Regions from separate parts of the Homo sapiens genome. Here regions 2, 3 and 4 are each linked to region 1. Evidence: fine-mapped expression QTL. A gene starts in region 1. Each other region holds a variant in brackets. All regions are shown on one strand. Distances are from middle to middle.

Region 1 (2,690 bases):
CTCAGCACATGTATGTTACTATGTGATGTGGTTTAAAACTAATGGAAAAAACTGAAAGTGCCTGAAACTAGTTTTAAGCTTAGACAGAATCTCTTTAAAAAGACTTGAATGTTCAGTTGAACTTTTGGAGTTTGCTTTTTCCACCTAAATATTGTTTCTAAAATTTTAGGGGCGGAGTTGAAAACCACCAATGCTGGTAATTTTATAAGGTATTTTAAAATTAAGACCTCTTGGTTCATAGTAATTCAATTGGTGATGGATTGCCTGGTGGCACCAAGGGTTACAGATCTTTTTGTCAGCCAGCAACTTACACGATGTGTCCGTTTTGTTATTCACTCATGAAATACAATTTAAAATATTTAAAATATTTTGTATTCCAAAAATATAATACAAAGAAGTACCTCTGAGAACATTGAAAAAAATGTATAATTTGAAAAATGTAACTTATAAGGGCAGCTGTCTTCCTGCAAGAGTTCTGTTGCCAAGGAATTTCTTAATGTCGCTCATTCTGTCCAGGGGGTTTGGGGCGATTGGGCTTTGAAAAAATATTCTTAAAAGTTTGTTTAGCAGAAAATAATCACTTTTACATTTTGTGCAAAACATTTTACATTTTCAGATAATTTAAATGAGCACTACATACTGTCAGTGTGAATGTAGGGCCTTGAAAGCATTTTGCTTTTTTTTTTTTTTTTTTTTTTTTGAGCTTGGTTATAAAAGCAATCTCCTGTGTTAAAAACGTGTGAATAGTTTGATAATTTGTACACATAATCAAGAGCATCTCAGCTGGACTTTGTGTTGGCTGCTGTATAGAACATGAACAAATGTCAAGGGATAGAAAATTACTTTGGATATTTAAAAGAGAAGAAATATATAGTCTATTTGTTTTGTAACAAGTTTCTGTAAATAAAATAATTTATACTATTTATAAGAAAAGGTTGTGCTTTGCTTTATAAGAAATTAGCTTGTGGAACAAACATGTTACTAAACGGGCAATAAAATTAGGACTTCTCAATAAATAAGGTTGGCTGCATGAAATATTGTACGTTTCTGCCTCGTTGTGATACTAAACCCTTTCAGTCTACTCTGACTTTTCATCACTTTTGGCATGGAACACCCTTGTGAAGCCCCTTCAATTTAGCCTTCCTCTTATATAAGCTAAATACTTCTAAGGCCTGGGGATGTTTCCATCTGGGGGCACAAAGCTTTGCTTTGGATAAATTAGTAACTGTGTAAACAGTGAACATTACTGTATTCTGGCCTTGCATGTTTGTGAAAGAAACGAGGGAGTTGATGGATTGAGAAACACATTCTATTTGTACTTAGGTGCAAATTTGATGACATGTAGTTTTGGTTTAAGATAAGCTTTTTATCCAGACCCGGTCTAATCTCTTCCTTTCTTTTACATACCTCCCTTACTGGCAATACAAGTGCATTTTAGTATTATTTGGAACACAGCATAATCATTTACCTCTAGAAATCCAGACATTTTTACTGTTTGCAAATAAACCATTCTGATAAATTATTTTTGTTGCTTAAAATAAGAGGAGGAACCGCTGTGTGTTAGCAAGAATGTCCATACCTGATATGAAAGAGTCATGTTGGCTTCAGTTCCTACTGCCCTGTGGACTTCCCATTCCCTCCTTACTTGAGTCAACCATCCACTCAGTACTTTCCACAAATCTAATAATGAGGTGCTCTCTGTAGGTAAATCCTTTCACTATGGCTTGTCCTCAAACCTCCCAAGAAAAGGTTCAACTGCTCAATCTCTTAACCTTTTTAATTCCATTCCCTTGCAGGTATCCCGGCCCTGCATAACAAGATGATCCCAACTCAAGGAAAGGGGTTTAGCAGTGTTGGATCTTGGCGTATGTGGGATTTAACCAGGCAGAAAGGCAGACAAGAGTAAGATTCTAGGCAGAGAGAGCAAATGCGTCGAGCATGGGTATGAACATGTGAGGGATAGAGAATAATTCTGCAGGAAGTTTGCTGGATGGAAGGGCCTTATAGGGTTAGAAAAGCTGGTGTCAGATTGTCAAGGACTTTGAATGTCATGGGGCTTCTCTTCCAGGAACACATGGGATCAGGCTTAGATTAACCCAAATGTAATTGTCAGAGCCCAGAGATATTTCATGGTCCAGTCCTAGCACTGTGCAGCTGCCAAAAGTCAAAGCCATTCAAATCTGTACTGAAAACTGTGGAAAAGCAAAGGAGCACTTAAGTCTCTTTCCCCATGTCTTGCATTCTCACTCTCTTTTGCTTCAAAGATCTGTCTTTACCTGCCCCTGTCCCCAGTCCTAACAAAAAGCACTCCCCTAAATCAACTCTTAAGTTCCTCTCCCTTCTCACTCCTTTCTTAGTCTCCTCTTTCTGTAAGAAGTTCTTGCTCCTGTTGTTAATGGAAGTTAATTAAAGTAGTATTTCACCTTGTAAGGCTGTAATTCTTGGCACTTGTTATCCTCATTTTCTACATCCAAAGACCATGGACCAGAATATCTCTTAGGAGGTAAGGGAGAGTGAGGCTATCAGCCAAAGAAAAAGTCTCCAGGGGGAAGGGGAGAATCACTTATAATTTAATACTTTGTGGAAAAAACATCTCTGCCACCTATGGCCCTCCAATAACAATGGAAGACAGAATCAACAGGTGAGAACCTTGGGACAAAAATAAGTTACAAAGCTGTTGTAATCCAGGT
Region 2 (2,690 bases), 160 kb before region 1:
CTATGAGAGGACATTTGACTTTGGGGTACCTAGGGTTAGTTTGTACTGTGGCAGGGCACATGACTTCTGGGTTCATAGTGGCTGACAAGTCACTGGCAATGACTACATTGTTTCGGCTCCCACTCTGGTGATATCTCATGCATGATGCCATAAAAGGCTTGGGTCAAGCCCTGAAGAATGTGGCTGGACAGAAATACGGGTTGCATCCCATTGGTGACCAGCATATGACCAGAGGGAAATGTGCGTTACACTCTCTGTGGCTACCATAAAGGGCTGCAGTAGTAAAGGTAACCAACGGCAGTCACAGTAAGTGGTTATTACCATGAGGTGGAGGGGGACATGAACTCTGGCTTTTGGAATTCATAGGTATGTGTGTTCTTTTTTTCTTACATGTTTAGATGAGGGAGGCCTCAGGCATCTGACTGGGTCAGACAAAAAAGAAACTGAAATGTCATTAGCTAAGTTGGTCAAGGCGATCTCAAAGCCAAAGCCATTTTGGCTTTGGAAGACCCAATATCCAACATAAAATGGTTTCTTTAATTTCTAAAGATCTGAGTACCCTCCCTTCTGGCCAGTCTGCCTTTTTTGTGTATAAGGTTTCTGGTTCTGGAAGCTACAAATATTTACAAATGGCAAAATCTTACAAAAGATAATTCAGAATTATGATGCCATTACATGGAATGTTCCACATGAAAAAGACTATTCATCTAAGAAGTGCACTCGAACCCCGAGCCTCCCAAATTATGCAGAGAGAACAAAATTCTTATTGGCATTCAGAAGCCTCAAAGAGACAGTCCTCTAAAATCACCTTTTAAAAAGATTCACTGTAAAGAGCTAATGAAAAGCTGGAAATGGAAGATATTCCCTTACCAAGGATGGTAAAACTGATGTAACTCCTACTGCCTCTCTCTCTCTTTCTTTGCCTGAATATTTACAATCTACTACTAAATATTCAGTCTGCTTTGTCTGAATTGCCTTTCTTCCCTGAAAAAAGCAGTTAAACAGTTTCCTTATAAGAGAATCGTCTGAAAAATCAGGAGATAATCCCCAAGCGACTTGCACTCCCTGGACAAAAATGGACTTCAGGGCCACAGTTCAAGATTTTCCTAAACCTAGAGAAAAATTTCACAAGTTTTCTGAAGAATTCAGGGTCTTACTAGTAACTTATTATTTAAAAATTTTTATTTTTTTT[A/G]GACGGAGTTTCACTCTTGTTGCCCAGGCTGGAGTGCAAGGGCGCAATCTTGGCTCACCACAACCTTCGTCTCCTGGGTTCAAGCTATTCTCCTGCCTCAGCCTCCCAAGTAGCTGGGATTACAGGCACCCACCACCACGCCAGGCTAATTTTTTTGTAGTTTTAGTAGAGACGTGGTTTTACCATGTTGGCCAGGCTGGTTCTCAAACTCCTGACCTCAGGTGATCCACCCACCTCGGCCTCCTAAAGTGCGGGAATTATAGGCATGAGCCACCGTGCTTGGCCTTACTGGTAATTTATAACCCCAGTATACTTGATCTGTACCAACTAGTATATGTGTTGGTGTACTCTAGGGAGCCCCACATGGATGAAAGAGGCAGAATGATAGTCTCCTGAGAATTCTATCAAGTACCCAACAAGTCCCGTCCGATCTACTTATGGGTCAGGCAAAACCCAAAAGACTGCAAATTACAGTTTGAAAAGCCATTCCCCAAGTATTTCAGCTCCATGACAACCAGCAACCTAGAATGACATTTGGGCCTGTCCTAGGGTGCTTCCCCAAATAAGCAATCCCTAAAACAGCAGTTTCCAAAAATTCACTAGTAGGAGGGCTAGAACGCCTCCTAGTTTGTTGGGAATGGATCGAAGAATTGCGTAGGCGAATAGGAAGTACCACCACTTGTGCAAATAACCAGGACATTGGAAAAAGGACTGCTAAAAAAAATTTCTAGGAAAGCCCCTAAAATCAGGCTTCCCACCCACCCTGTGATAAAAAAAGTTCCTATAAATCTGGTATGTATTGGTATAAATGCTATCAGTCATAATTTTGGTTGAAAAATAACCAAATTTCCTTGTCAATTTCATCATTATTTTAATGAACTCTCATCAGGTTTTAACCATGGCCATTTTAAGTCATGTTGTCCACAGTTAATTGTTTTGGTTCTAATGCCTTTTATGAAAGCTTTCTGCAAGCAATTATAATCCTAAAGTGCTGTGTCTCCAAAAAGCTATATCAGAAGAATGAAAAGAAGGCCGGGTGCAGTGGCTCACGCCTGTAATCCCAGCACTTTGGGAGGCAGAGGCGAGCGGATCACTTGAGGTTAGGAGTCGAGACCAGGCTGGCCAACAAGGCGAAACCCTGTTTCTACCAAAAATACAAAAATTAGCCGGGTGTGGGGTTGCGTGCCTGTAATCCCAGCTACTCAGGAGGCTGAGGAAGGAGAATTGCTTGAACCCAGGAGGCAGAGGTTGCAGTGAGCCAAGATCGTGCAACTGCACTCCAGTCTGGGCAACAGAGTGAGACTCTGTCTCAAAAAACAAACAAAAAAAACAAACTCTGACATAACTTTTAGTTTATACCATTGGACAAAATTTCCAAAAGTTTAATGAAGAAACTGTAAACCAAAAATAAAATTCTAAGCCCTCCAGCCAATTGAATGGACACCCATTCAATAGGCCAAGGGCTTTCCAAAGTAAACCTGAAAAACTAGTTTAGGCC
Region 3 (2,690 bases), 40 kb before region 1:
TGTTGTGCTACTTGAGTCTCAGTCTGCTTAGCCAAACAAATTAAGAGAGTGACAATAATCAAGATACACTTGTTTGATGTAATACCAGAATTTTGTATTTCTTTTTTTTTTTTTTTTTTCTTCTTCAAGACAGATTCTCACTCTCTTGCCCAGGCTAGAGTGCAGTGGCGTGATCTTGGCTCACTGTAACCCCCACCTCCCGGGCTCAAGCAATCCTTCCACCTCAGCCCTTCCAGTACCTGGGACTACAGGCACACGCCACCACACCTAGCTAATTTTTGTATTTTTTGTAGAGGCAGGGTTTCACCATGTTGCCCAGGCTGGTCTCAAACTCCTGGGCTGAAGCAATCCACCTGCCTCTGCCTCCTGAAGTGCTGGGATTACAGGTGTGAACCACCACACTCGGCCAGAATTTTGTATTTAATTTTTCTTAGCTACCTTCACAGTGCATTTTTGTAACACAAATTTTTTAGACCTGTTTCTTTATAGATTTTTTGATTGGCATATGAATATATGAAATATATACACCTATAACGTATTTTTATATAAATACACAAATGTAATCATCTCAACTATTTTCAGTGCAGCCTTTTTCTTATTTCATTGGCTCTTTCAACTTACCTGCCTTCTCTAACTGTAGCAGTCCATGCTACGCTATAAATCATACATGCTGCATTCTTAGTATGTAACTTAATATGCATCCTTGTATATTTTTCTCATGCTTCTAACTCTATCCAGGCACATAGAATCACGTATTTTATTAGTAGGGGCTTTTGGTGATAGTTTTACAAAAAAGTGGATCCTATTATGCACACTTCTGCTCCTTTTCTACTCAACAATACCTCATGTAAATCCATTCACAGCCCTGGATAACACTAATCCCCTCTTTTTAATGGTTGCATACTGCTCTAAAGTGTGGCTGTGCTGTAGCTTCCTCTGCCAGGCCCTCTATGGACATTCATTTTGTTTCTTGCTTTTTGTCTGTGTGAACCAAACAGCAGTACCCACTCTGGTACATACATACTTAATTACTGGTGGTTTAGTTTCTGTGGGATAGAGTCTCAGGAAGGGATTCCTGGGTCACAAAAGACTAGTTATTTGCAGTGTTAATAGCTGCTGCTGGATTGCTTTCCAAAAAGGCTGTAATGCTTTATATCTCTACCAGCCACTATGAGAGTTATCTCCAAAGGAGTAGGTGTTGTATTTATTTTTCTAAGCTTCCATTTAATTTTCTAAAGCCTCTTACAATGTTCCTTAGACACATA[AAC/A]ACACACACACACACACACACACACACACACACACGTATGATTAATTTTAATTTGAAATAAATTCCTCAAACAACCACAAGTCTAGTAATACTTAATAATATGAGACAAAGAGATCTTTCAAAACGAGTGATTATTTTAAAAAATATTTAAACAATTATAGGCAGTTTCTCGGGCGTCTATGGGAAGTTTCTATTCATTCTGTATGGAATTTAAGGAAGAAATCTCATTCTCTTATGCTAGGATTCCCCTGTGCAAAATGTGAGGCCTCCTAGAGGATCATAATTTTGAGTGTGATTAATTGCAAGGCCAAGGAAAAACTATGGCCAGTTTTGTTTCTGATCTCCCTATCCTCTTTGCAGTTGGTATGACTGGTCACCTTATAAAGGTGTTCATTGTGTGTTTCAAATAATGACTGGGCTGAGGTCACGCTGTGGTTAACTCAAAGCCTGTGTAAATCAGGCCATGAAGATATATTTTATTTGCCTGCCTTACACACATGAAGTGTGGCTGAGCCCTGGAGAGCCATCGACCAAAAGATCAGCTGGAGGAAGGCTGCTGCATGGTTTTAGCCCCCAAGGTGAATTATCCCCATTTAAATTTCATCTCCCACCTCTCCTAATCCAGTGTGAGTACCTAATGAGCTCTGGATAATAACATAGCAACATTTCTAGGTGAAGCTAATCTGATTCTGGATAGCAGGCTTCCAGGCCCACAGCCGAATGAATTGCTTGGTATTTCCAAGTTTGAAAATACTTTTTTCCCCTTTCAAGTGCTCCTTGGCAGCAGGTAAGGAATGTTAAAGCTCCTGTAAGTGCCAATTAAGGCCAATTATAACTCACCCGGCCTGCTGAGACAGTGAAGTGGAGTTAGTGGAGACTTGTATTCCTGTAAAATGGAGAACTGGCTTTCACCAATGATAGGAACACAGTATTTCATAACTGCCAACAGCTTGTTTATTGCCCTCCAGAGCACTGAATGACACCTCTGCTGGCTTCTCAAGGATTCAGTTTAGGAAATCCCAAGATTTGTAGGGGACTTGACTAATTTCTATAATAGAAACCTCAGTTTTTCTGTTTCTGTTTAACTCCTCTATCATCCATCCAGTTTCTCCTTGGTTGTAATCATAATAGCTAACATTTGCTGAACGTTTAACAAGTGCTGGGCGTTGCATTACCTGCATTATCTCAAATTTACTCCTCACCCCAGGCTTGTGGGAGGAGGCAGTATCAGTCCTTAGCTCTCCTGAGTCTCTTGCCCACGGCTGCACAACTAGAAGTGCTCAGACTGCAGGCTGGCTGCCCCCTGAACCCAAACCTTGAGTGTTCCTCCTAGCCTCCTGCAAGTTTGCCTGTTTGCTGCGAATAGGCTAATGCACAGTTCAGAACTCCCTTTGTGCACTAGAGTAAAATTGACATGTGTACA
Region 4 (2,671 bases), 64 kb before region 1:
GTGCCTTGCCTTTTAAAATTTTTTTAATTTTTTTTTTTGCATATGGAAGAAATAAAGTTTTAGGACTTGATTTGTAAGACATTTGCCTGAAACTAGGGGAGAATCTTCAAGATGATGGCTTCTTTGGTATCTTGGCTGTCTCAGAGGCCCTTAGAACTTAGATGTCCCACATATATGGGCTTCATTCTCAGACCTGGCATTCTTCCAGGATTCTTTCTCAGAGACTGATACCTCTTATCCATCCATCCTGTTCTGTAAGATGGGAAGCATGGCATCCTTCTCTTCACCACCTTTGTATCCAGGCTATTACAAAGTCATGTCAACAGTTCCTTCTAAATGTCTTGGAATCCTTTCTTTGTCATCTCACTGCCATCCCCATGTCTTTCACCCTGTACTGCTGCAGACAGCTCTTGATTGACCTCCTCACTTCCACTTTCAAACCAAGCACCTCCCTTCCCCATACTATAGTCGAAGCAATGTTGAACATAATAATAAACAAACTGATGATATTATCCTTCATTAAAATGCTTCTATTAAGCACTAACGAATGTCAGAGTAAGGACCTCCAAAAATCTGCTCTGCCATAAAAGCAATAAAAGCACTGGCAAGAATTGTCAAAATCAACTTGTTTAGAATTGTGCAAATTAACCCCAAAGGCTTGCAAATTCAGATGAGCATATATTCAAGAAAAATGGCTGAATCTGTAAGTACAGAGAATTCTATAGTGTTTTAACTTGCCCTATTTCAACCTCTCCTCCCCAACTCCACAGTAACTTTGAAAACCAGCAGCTTCACAACTAGGGTAGCCGTGAAAGCCAGCAGTCTAGCAGCCACTGGAGGGGACAGAATGGGTTTGGAACTCCCCCAAAGCCTTATTTTCAGAGAATTGTCACTGATGTATCTGGTAGCTCCCTGAAAAGCCCCATTCTCAGGACTTGTCTTTATTTGGGCTAGCTCAGAGCTCATTCTGTGACCTATTCCTAGGGTGTTAAAAAAAAAAATCAGCAGTGATTCTTCAATGTCAC[A/T]GTTGCTTGAGGTGGTAATGCCAACTGGGGCTAAGAAGAGGCTGACCAAAAAAGTAAATAGGAAACACTGGGGAATGAGATGTCAGTTGGGGGCTTCAAAGAGTTCCACCATACTCCTGGGAATCCAGAAAACCACATGGATGTGTAGAGTTGTGCGCATGCCCAGAAAGGACCTGAGAAGGCCCTAATCTCACCTCTTGCTAACCTGGAGGCTGTATACAAGCAGGAAGTGAAGGCTAAAGCAGAGTCATAAACTCCCTGCTGGAGCATTGAGGCCATGCCCCATCACACACACACACACACACACACACACACACACACACACACAGCCCCTCAGCCAAGGCTGGGAGCCTTACGGCAGACATAAATGCTACATTAACCATTTAAAAACGTAAAGACAGGTCAGTAGCCAATGCCATTTCATAATTAATTCTGTTCTAAGTTGAATGAGAGCCATGGAATTTACACAATATACCTGACAGATGTGGTGTTGCAATGAACAAAAGAAGGAATGGTATTCTTAACTGAGTCATGAGATTATAATCATAACCACAATAATAATAATAGTAACAAAATAAACACTGTTCTTTATCGAGCCCTTATGTGTACACTCTGCTTACTGTGTTTAGACAGATATAGACCGCAACTTTTTACATGAATTATCTCATTCCGTCCAACAGTCCATTAAAGTTGATACTATCATTTTCAAATGTAGAAACTGTATGCCTAGATGTGCCTAGAGGTTAAGTACATTGCTGGAGATTACAAAACCAAGCTAAGTGGTAGACTCTTAGAGCCCGTATCCTACTCTAGACTACATGCTTGTCCAAATGGTAGGGATGCAGACAAGATTTATAAGGTTTTTGGTAGGCACTTCCAGATTTGGGACACATGGCATTGAAAGCTTGTTTTCTGACTTGAGAGGTCAGGATTTGCTGACAGTATTTTGAGGAGTAGCTTAAGGAACCCGTGAGACAAACCTGTCGTGTGTACTGCCATGTTGGTCACTGTTGTAGCCCCACCTGCCATTCCTAACGCAGGTTCCTCAGGATTTTGATATTTGCCTACTCTATTCTATCCCCAGCATTTTATCTCAATTTCAGTACAAGCAATGACAATGTAAACACTGTAACTCTTACCTGTTAGGGGTCACTATTGATAATATTGGCCATTTGTAATTAGTGAGTAATTAATATTAGGAATATTTTCATCTTTCTAGCTCCTTGGTCGTCTGGTGCAGGGGTCCCCAGTCTCTGGGCAGTGGACCAGCACCAGTCTGTCAGTGGCCTGTTAGCAGTCAGGCTATGGGGTGGGGGGTTTGGGAGAGAGAGAGGAATGAGCATTACCGCCTGAACTCTGCCTCTTGTCAGATCAGCGGTGGCATTAGATTCTCACAGCAGTGTGAACCCTATTGTGAACTGCACGTGCAAGGTATCTAGGTTGTGTGCTCCTAGAATCTAACTAATGTCTGATTATATGCGGTGGAACAGTTTCATCCTGAAACCATTCTCTCCTTGCCCCAGTCCCATGGAAAAATTGTCTTCCACGAAACTGTTCCCTGGTGCCAGAAAGGTTGGGGACTGCTGCTGTGGTTTTTGTTGCTTGCTTTTTACTTGAAACATCTCACTTTATTTTCTTTAAATCTA

Which allele goes with the higher level. Alleles are on the strand shown, and positions count from the first base shown. SD is a standard deviation of normalised expression in the study named. Not every link is listed here.
With allele A in place of G in region 2, the expression in lymphoblastoid cells of the gene that starts at base 1,493 in region 1 is higher (small effect, 0.36 SD a copy in TwinsUK).

The links.
Region 2: its variant is fine-mapped to the expression of PSMD6-AS2 in lymphoblastoid cells (TwinsUK, PIP 0.95).
Region 3: its variant is fine-mapped to the expression of PSMD6-AS2 in Th17 cells (Schmiedel 2018, PIP 0.95).
Region 4: its variant is fine-mapped to the expression of PSMD6-AS2 in whole blood (TOPMed, PIP 0.99).

The regions. Positions count from the first base shown.
Region 1 is chr3:64,002,530-64,005,219 of GRCh38, forward strand. PSMD6-AS2 (PSMD6 antisense RNA 2) reads left to right here and starts at 1,493. Exons shown (of 3, transcript NR_038286.1): 1 at 1,493-2,690. It overlaps ATXN7 (ataxin 7), which reads left to right. Exons shown (of 13, transcript NM_001377405.1): 13 at 1-933.
Region 2 is chr3:63,845,234-63,847,923 of GRCh38, forward strand. The region is part of intron 6 of C3orf49 (chromosome 3 open reading frame 49); the gene reads left to right. The region is part of intron 1 of THOC7 (THO complex subunit 7); the gene reads right to left. Among named protein-coding and RNA genes, the nearest start is that of THOC7-AS1, 14 kb to the right of the region's middle. The variant A/G (reference allele first, on the strand shown) is at 1,193.
Region 3 is chr3:63,962,808-63,965,497 of GRCh38, forward strand. The region is part of intron 5 of ATXN7 (ataxin 7); the gene reads left to right. Among named protein-coding and RNA genes, the nearest start is that of PSMD6-AS2, 40 kb to the right of the region's middle. RefSeq lists an enhancer at 1,733-2,237. The variant AAC/A (reference allele first, on the strand shown) is at 1,266.
Region 4 is chr3:63,938,975-63,941,645 of GRCh38, forward strand. All of the region lies in intron 4 of ATXN7 (ataxin 7), which reads left to right. Among named protein-coding and RNA genes, the nearest start is that of PSMD6-AS2, 64 kb to the right of the region's middle. The variant A/T (reference allele first, on the strand shown) is at 1,026.